Homo sapiens: one gene and its partner. Changing the gene in region 2 together with the main gene of any one other region gives a genetic interaction. Each region holds a gene or a part of one and is shown on either strand. Other genes may lie near its edges.

The links.
Region 1: changes in ITGB7 (region 2) and HMGA1 together harm fitness more than expected from each alone (negative genetic interaction), as found in Homo sapiens cells (one large-scale study listed by BioGRID).

The regions. Positions count from the first base shown.
Region 1 is NC_000006.12:34,243,302-34,246,731, reverse strand, and holds the end of HMGA1 (high mobility group protein HMG-I/HMG-Y), read right to left. Parts: intron 3,265-3,430; coding exon 3,214-3,264; intron 1,902-3,213; coding exon 1,848-1,901; 3' UTR 501-1,847; downstream 1-500. UniProt on the Homo sapiens protein: HMG-I/Y bind preferentially to the minor groove of A+T rich regions in double-stranded DNA. It is suggested that these proteins could function in nucleosome phasing and in the 3'-end processing of mRNA transcripts.
Region 2 is NC_000012.12:53,190,649-53,194,208, reverse strand, and holds the end of ITGB7 (integrin beta-7 isoform a precursor), read left to right. Parts: coding exon 1-11; exon of another isoform or gene 12-307; coding exon 308-501; exon of another isoform or gene 502-845; coding exon 846-1,069; exon of another isoform or gene 1,070-1,298; coding exon 1,299-1,518; exon of another isoform or gene 1,519-1,670; coding exon 1,671-1,879; exon of another isoform or gene 1,880-2,189; coding exon 2,190-2,350; exon of another isoform or gene 2,351-2,477; coding exon of another isoform or gene 2,478-2,510; exon of another isoform or gene 2,511-2,572; coding exon 2,573-2,653; 3' UTR 2,654-2,886; downstream 2,887-3,560. UniProt on the Homo sapiens protein: Integrin ITGA4/ITGB7 (alpha-4/beta-7) (Peyer patches-specific homing receptor LPAM-1) is an adhesion molecule that mediates lymphocyte migration and homing to gut-associated lymphoid tissue (GALT).

The sequences.
Region 1 (3,430 bases), on a different chromosome or scaffold from region 2:
TGCTGTCACCTGGCTCCCCCTGCTGGGTGCTGGGTCTCCATTTCTCCCTCCACCCACCCTCAGCAGCATCTGCTTCCCATGCCCTCACCATCACCTCACTGCCCCCAGGCCTTCTGCCCTTTGTGGGTGTTGAGCTCACCGCCCACCCACAGGCACTCATGGGAAGAGGCTTTCCTTCTGGGATGGGGGCGGCTGGTAGACACCTTTGCTTTCTCTAGCCCTCCTGGGCTGGGCTTGGGCACAAATCCCCAGGCAGGCTTTGGAGTTGTTTCCATGGTGATGGGGCCAGATGTATAGTATTCAGTATATATTTTGTAAATAAAATGTTTTGTGGCTAGGGGTTTTGATTTCATCAAGAGGCTTAAAATGACCTTCCCCGGAGGTGATTCCAGTGCTATTTCCCCTCCCTTCCTGCAGCCTGAAGGATGGGGGCCAGAACACAAGTGTCACCCATCCTACCTGCCCCAGGCTTTAGGGGCACACACCACAGGAGACTCCAGTCCAGAAAAGGATATTTTTTTTATTCAAGTAACTGCAAATAGGAAACCAGAGAGGGAGCCCCAGGCTGGGACAAATCATGGCTACCCCTCCCCAACAGAACAGGGGGAGGAGGTGGCCCCTACACCCTTTATGGTCGATTTGGGCCCCCTTGCTCACTCTGCTGCAGCATCCTAGGGGCAGGGCCCCACCTTCCCTGGGACTGGGGTAGTCGGTCACCCAGCCTGCCATGCCCCAGCCCCTCTTCCCCACAAAGAGTATCTTGGGGGAGGGGATCGTGGGCAGAACAGGAGGCAATGAGGATGAACATTTGGCGCTGGTAGCAGCAGCAATGACGGATGTCGAAGAATGGAACATTGAACAAAAAACAACACAACTGTCCAGAGGTAGTTTGTGAACAGAGGAAAAATGGAACCAGAACCTTGGGGGGCAGGGAGGAGCAGGAGGGGGGTTGGGAGCGGGCAGGGTGAGCTCCTTGTTATTGGTGCCCCATCTGAGGAGGGGGAAATGGCTGAGTGGCGGAAGCAAAGTAGGGTTAGGGGAGCAGCCCCAGCCCACCTCAGGTGGCGGCCACAGGGCTCTTGGGCCTCACCTGGACAATAAGTGACTGCATCTCCATCACCACAATATGTACTCAGATCCCAGGCGGAGGGCAAGGGGGCTGTGGCCACAGTGAAGAGGGAGTAGGGGACTCACCCCTCCTGCCTTCCTGTAACCGAAGGGGGCTGTCCAACCTAGTACGGGGACTAGGGAAGTTGGGGAAGGATGAAAAGTGAGCCCCACGTGGTGACAAAGACAGTTTGGCTGGGGGAATCCTGGGGGCCAGCACCCCCCTCCATTGGCCACACCTGCTGCTGCCAGGGCAGTGGAGTAGGGCGTGCCAGGATGAGATGGGGCTTGGGCCCCTTTTAAGGCCAGGGGAACCCTCCCAGGCCCCACTATGGGAAGCCAGAGGGAACAGTGAAGGAGCAGAGAGGGCGCCCCCAAACCAAAAGCCCAGAGAGCAATGTCCCCACCACCAAGGGAGTGGGGACGCAGCAGGTGCAGGGTGCGGCTAAGTGGGATGTTAGCCTTGTCCAGGAGGGCATGTGTGTATGCGTGGGTGGGCGGGGGGAGCTGGGAACTGAGGCCAGGGGAAAACTGCTCCCCACTCAGCCCATGGGAGCCCTGCAGCGGCTGGTGTGCTGTGTAGTGTGGTGGTGAGGGCACAGGTGGAAGATGGGGGTGGCGGCCAGAGGCGGTGGTGATGGTGGGCCTGGGGAAGGGGTGGGGGCGGTGGGAGCGGAGCAAAGCTGTCCAGTCCCAGAAGGAAGCTGCTCCTCCAGTGAGGAGCAGGCGGCACGCATGGGTCACTGCTCCTCCTCCGAGGACTCCTGCGAGATGCCCTCCTCTTCCTCCTTCTCCTGTGAGGTGGGCAGTTGTTGGTGTGAGCTCTGGCCCGGTCCCCCTCTTCCACCCCCAGAGGCTGGCCCCACCCGCTCCCTGCACTCCCTGGCTCTCCTGAAGAGGGATGAGTCAGGGCTGAGTGTGTGGGTGACTCAGCAACCTCCACGGCCCGGCTTCATTCATAAAAAGAATTTAAAAGGAGGAAAAAACCCCACACACATGCTGCTCTCACCCAGAGCCAGGAGCCAAGCCCCCTTGGCCCCCAGGCCCAGGGAGGGCAGGAGGGCAGAGCTCAGGGCAGCAATGAGCTTCAGGATGTGACTGACTCCCTAGGGGAGAAGAGGAGGTGGGGGAAGAGGTGGCTGGGGGAGGAAATGGGAAGGGGTGGCTGGAAGGTGCAAGAGCCCGCTGGTGGGTGCAGGGGAACCAGGTCCTTGGCCCACAGGGGCAGATGCTGTGCTGTGGTGCCCTGGCCCTCCGGGGTGGCCGAGGGCTGACCCTAGGCCGGGGTGGGGAGGAAGGGGAAGTGTGTGCCGCCGGGGCTCACTCACTGGGCGGGAATGTCGGGACACCACACGGGGCTACAGCCCCCGTGCCAGGCACAAACTCCAAAACAACTTGTTTCCTGTTACTCACTCTTGGGGCCTGGCCAGCAGCACCCCCTAACCCCCCCACCCCAGCAGTGGCTCAGCTCAAGGAATGACAGCTTCAGGGATTTGAGGGGGCAGGCTGGGGGTAGGAGAGGGCCAGGAGCTGGAAGGCTGGGGTGACCCTAACTGCAGTGGCCCCCTAGAGGCAGCTTCTTGACTCAGCCCACCGAGCCTTTCCACCAGCTGTTTGGGGACCCAGAATTGGATGGTGCCCTCCAGTGCAGTGTGGTGGGTCACATCAGAACTCCAGCACCGACCCCTCCCAGGGCCCAGCTCCTTCGCTGTTTCTCTTCTGCAGAGGCTCATAGGAAGGACAAACCTTCCCCCTATGGCTTCCTTTCCTCATCTCTAATTGAGGGGGACACAGGCTAGATGACTTCCAAGATCTCCCCTAGAAGTTCTGAGTATTCTAGGAGCAGGAGAGGGAGGGACCCCCACACACAACTAGGGCAGGGCAGGGCAGGGGGATGTGGTCTGATTTATACCTGGGACCCCTCACTTCTCATGGGCACAGCCCAGGCCAGGTACCTTCCCCTCTCTGGACTTCTGTAAAATCTGATGTCCCAGCAGGTCAAGGAGAGCCTTTCCATAGGGGGTGCATAGCATCAGGTACTGTGTACTCAACACCCTCAACTCAAAAGAGCCCAGGAGGCAAGCAGCAGTCTGCTTCTTCACCTACCAGTTTTTTGGGTCTGCCCCTTGGTTTCCTTCCTGGAGTTGTGGTGGTTTTCTAGAGGGTTAGAGAAAATATCTCCTAAGTCCAAAATGCTCATCAGTGCTCACCCGATGCCCAATAGTGATGGGGGGCAGACCTACCTGCCTGTTCAGGGTGACCCAACACTCTCACCCAACAGGCCCACCCAAGTCCAGCTGGCAATGACTGGCCAGCCACATTT
Region 2 (3,560 bases):
TCAACCAGACGGTGAGAGCCAGCAAGCACAGGCAGAAGGCGGGCAGGGGGAGGTGGGAGTGGGAAATTAAGCAGGCAGGAAAAGATGGGTGGCAGGTACAGGGAGTGACATGAGAGCCTGAGGTAGTCCTCCATCCATCCTTCCTGGAGCAGTCTGAGTGGCTTCCTCAGGCATGTTTCTAGGAGTTGGGTGTTAACATGACCCCATCCCTTCATTTACTAAGGGGTGAGGTTCTGGATGATTGGTGAGTTTGGGGTATGTGTGTGTGCATGTGTATAACCATGGCCTGATTCCTGCCTCTTCTCAGGTGACTTTCTGGGTTTCTCTCCAAGCCACCCACTGCCTCCCAGAGCCCCATCTCCTGAGGCTCCGGGCCCTTGGCTTCTCAGAGGAGCTGATTGTGGAGTTGCACACGCTGTGTGACTGTAATTGCAGTGACACCCAGCCCCAGGCTCCCCACTGCAGTGATGGCCAGGGACACCTACAATGTGGTGTATGCAGGTGAGGGCCTCCTCTTCCCTTCAACCACCTGGCTCCCAACAACCAACCAACCCTGGCCCGTATTCCTCCGCTGCTTTCCATCCCCCCCACAGGAGTCTCCTCGACATCCCGACTCCCCACTCAGTTTCATCCCTTGAAGCTTCCCATGTATGTCCAGGCCCTCCCCCTGACTGGGGCTCCCTCCACTCTCTCACCCCTCAGTGTTTCACTATACTTAACATCCTTTCAGCTGTTTGTCTGTCTCCAACTCTTTTGAGAACTTGGGTTTAGAGGTTCCTGGGAGAGACAAGTCAGGGGTGATCAAACCCTCTGACCTACTTCTCTCCTTTGCCTTCCCCTTCCAGCTGTGCCCCTGGCCGCCTAGGTCGGCTCTGTGAGTGCTCTGTGGCAGAGCTGTCCTCCCCAGACCTGGAATCTGGGTGCCGGGCTCCCAATGGCACAGGGCCCCTGTGCAGTGGAAAGGGTCACTGTCAATGTGGACGCTGCAGCTGCAGTGGACAGAGCTCTGGGCATCTGTGCGAGTGTGACGATGCCAGCTGTGAGCGACATGAGGGCATCCTCTGCGGAGGTACCTGGAGCCTTGGGGAGAAGGGCGGGGTCTGAGAGGCCTTCCCAAGGCACTTAGGCTCTGGGAATCTCCTGGCATGGAAGGCAAATATCAAAAGATTCCGGTGTATGGGTTAGAGGGTGTGGTTGGCATACTTCAAAAAGATTGGATGCGTGGGCTTGTCGTGCCACATGATGGCCAACTGTGTGTGTGGAGTATGGTTGTCACCCTCTGCATGGCTCTACCCCAGGCTTTGGTCGCTGCCAATGTGGAGTATGTCACTGTCATGCCAACCGCACGGGCAGAGCATGCGAATGCAGTGGGGACATGGACAGTTGCATCAGTCCCGAGGGAGGGCTCTGCAGTGGGCATGGACGCTGCAAATGCAACCGCTGCCAGTGCTTGGACGGCTACTATGGTGCTCTATGCGACCAATGCCCAGGCTGCAAGACACCATGCGAGAGACACCGGTGAGGCCTCAGGTCTTGCATCTTGGGAGCAGGGGCACAGTGGGGCTTGTTGAGCTACTCCCATCTGCCTACTCTCCGTCCTGCTTGTAGTTGGGCAAGGGGCATTGGGTGACAACTGCCCAGCTGGTAACCTATTGGCATCTACTACACAGGGACTGTGCAGAGTGTGGGGCCTTCAGGACTGGCCCACTGGCCACCAACTGCAGTACAGCTTGTGCCCATACCAATGTGACCCTGGCCTTGGCCCCTATCTTGGATGATGGCTGGTGCAAAGAGCGGACCCTGGACAACCAGCTGTTCTTCTTCTTGGTGGAGGATGACGCCAGAGGCACGGTCGTGCTCAGAGTGAGACCCCAAGAAAGTAAGTGGGCAGGGATGCCACAAACCCTGGAAGTTTGATGGGCAGGGTCTCAACTCTGGGGATGCAGAGTGAAGATAATGGGAAACAGGCTGGGGGCTGAAGCAGAACTGTGAATCCAGGACAAAGGCAGAGGCAATTGAGCAAGTGGACGAGGCTAAGGCCCTGGGCGGTGAGGATAACCTTGGACCTCCCTGGGTTCCCTTTGCTTTCAGTGACAGACAGGGTTGGACAGGCTGGACACACTGTGAGCAACTGATGATCTGTCCCTATGCTCCAGCTCCCACAAGTGTGTCTGGTTTCTTGTTCACAGAGGGAGCAGACCACACGCAGGCCATTGTGCTGGGCTGCGTAGGGGGCATCGTGGCAGTGGGGCTGGGGCTGGTCCTGGCTTACCGGCTCTCGGTGGAAATCTATGACCGCCGGGAATACAGTCGCTTTGAGAAGGAGCAGCAACAACTCAACTGGAAGCAGGTGAGGAGACTTCCTGGTTAGGCCCCTTTTTAGCTGTTCCCCCACCACAAGACCAGCCCTGATTCCTCCCACTGGGTTCCCCCAGCCCCTGGCACATGTAACCAACCCCTCTGCTAACTTCCATCAGCTCCTAGGATTCGGCTCAAGGCTGGCCTCTTAGGTCTAGAAAGGGGACGAGGAATCCTGGGATTTTTGCTTATAATCTGCAACATCTTTCTCCAGGACAGTAATCCTCTCTACAAAAGTGCCATCACGACCACCATCAATCCTCGCTTTCAAGAGGCAGACAGTCCCACTCTCTGAAGGAGGGAGGGACACTTACCCAAGGCTCTTCTCCTTGGAGGACAGTGGGAACTGGAGGGTGAGAGGAAGGGTGGGTCTGTAAGACCTTGGTAGGGGACTAATTCACTGGCGAGGTGCGGCCACCACCCTACTTCATTTTCAGAGTGACACCCAAGAGGGCTGCTTCCCATGCCTGCAACCTTGCATCCATCTGGGCTACCCCACCCAAGTATACAATAAAGTCTTACCTCAGACCACAGCTGTCACTTTGCTTTACCTCATCAAGGCCAAAGCAGACTGTTTATAGCCTGGGCCTCGGGAAAGCTCTTGTCCATCCTCCTCTTGCCACCTGAGGGCAGGGAGAGGTGCCCAAGCGCGAATGTGCAGGAAACTCCCGGGGTGCACCCTGGGACCCAGGAAGCCAGGTCTGGAAAGGGCCTATGAATTCTCAAGTGCTGCGGATGCAGGGGGGTCCCAGGTCAGAGACACTGCATCTGTTGGTGTCTAGCCTCCTTCCGTCCTGCTGCGTGTGCTTTTTCGTCTTGCTCAGAACTGATGCCCTGTTTTTGCTCCTACTTGCTTGTTCCTCTGTGGAGAAGGGGTTTTAAAATGGCTTATAGGGTGCTGGAAGTTGTGGGGTGATTATGTAGGGAGAAAAAAGGAAAACAACTAAAACCAGTATGAAAAAGCTTCCCCAAAGAGGAGATAGTATGTAGAAAAGCCCCATTTTCCTTTTATTTAAATATCCTAAATATATCACGAAGGAACATACACTGCACTTTAATGGTAAAAAGATACAAGTTTATAACATCTTATAAAAACTACCATTTAAAAGTGATCTTGTCCATTTGATATTCCCCTCCCCCATAGCAAAATATTATTTAAAAAAAAAAAAAACAAAAAACAGGGTGGAGAGGAGGATAGGAAG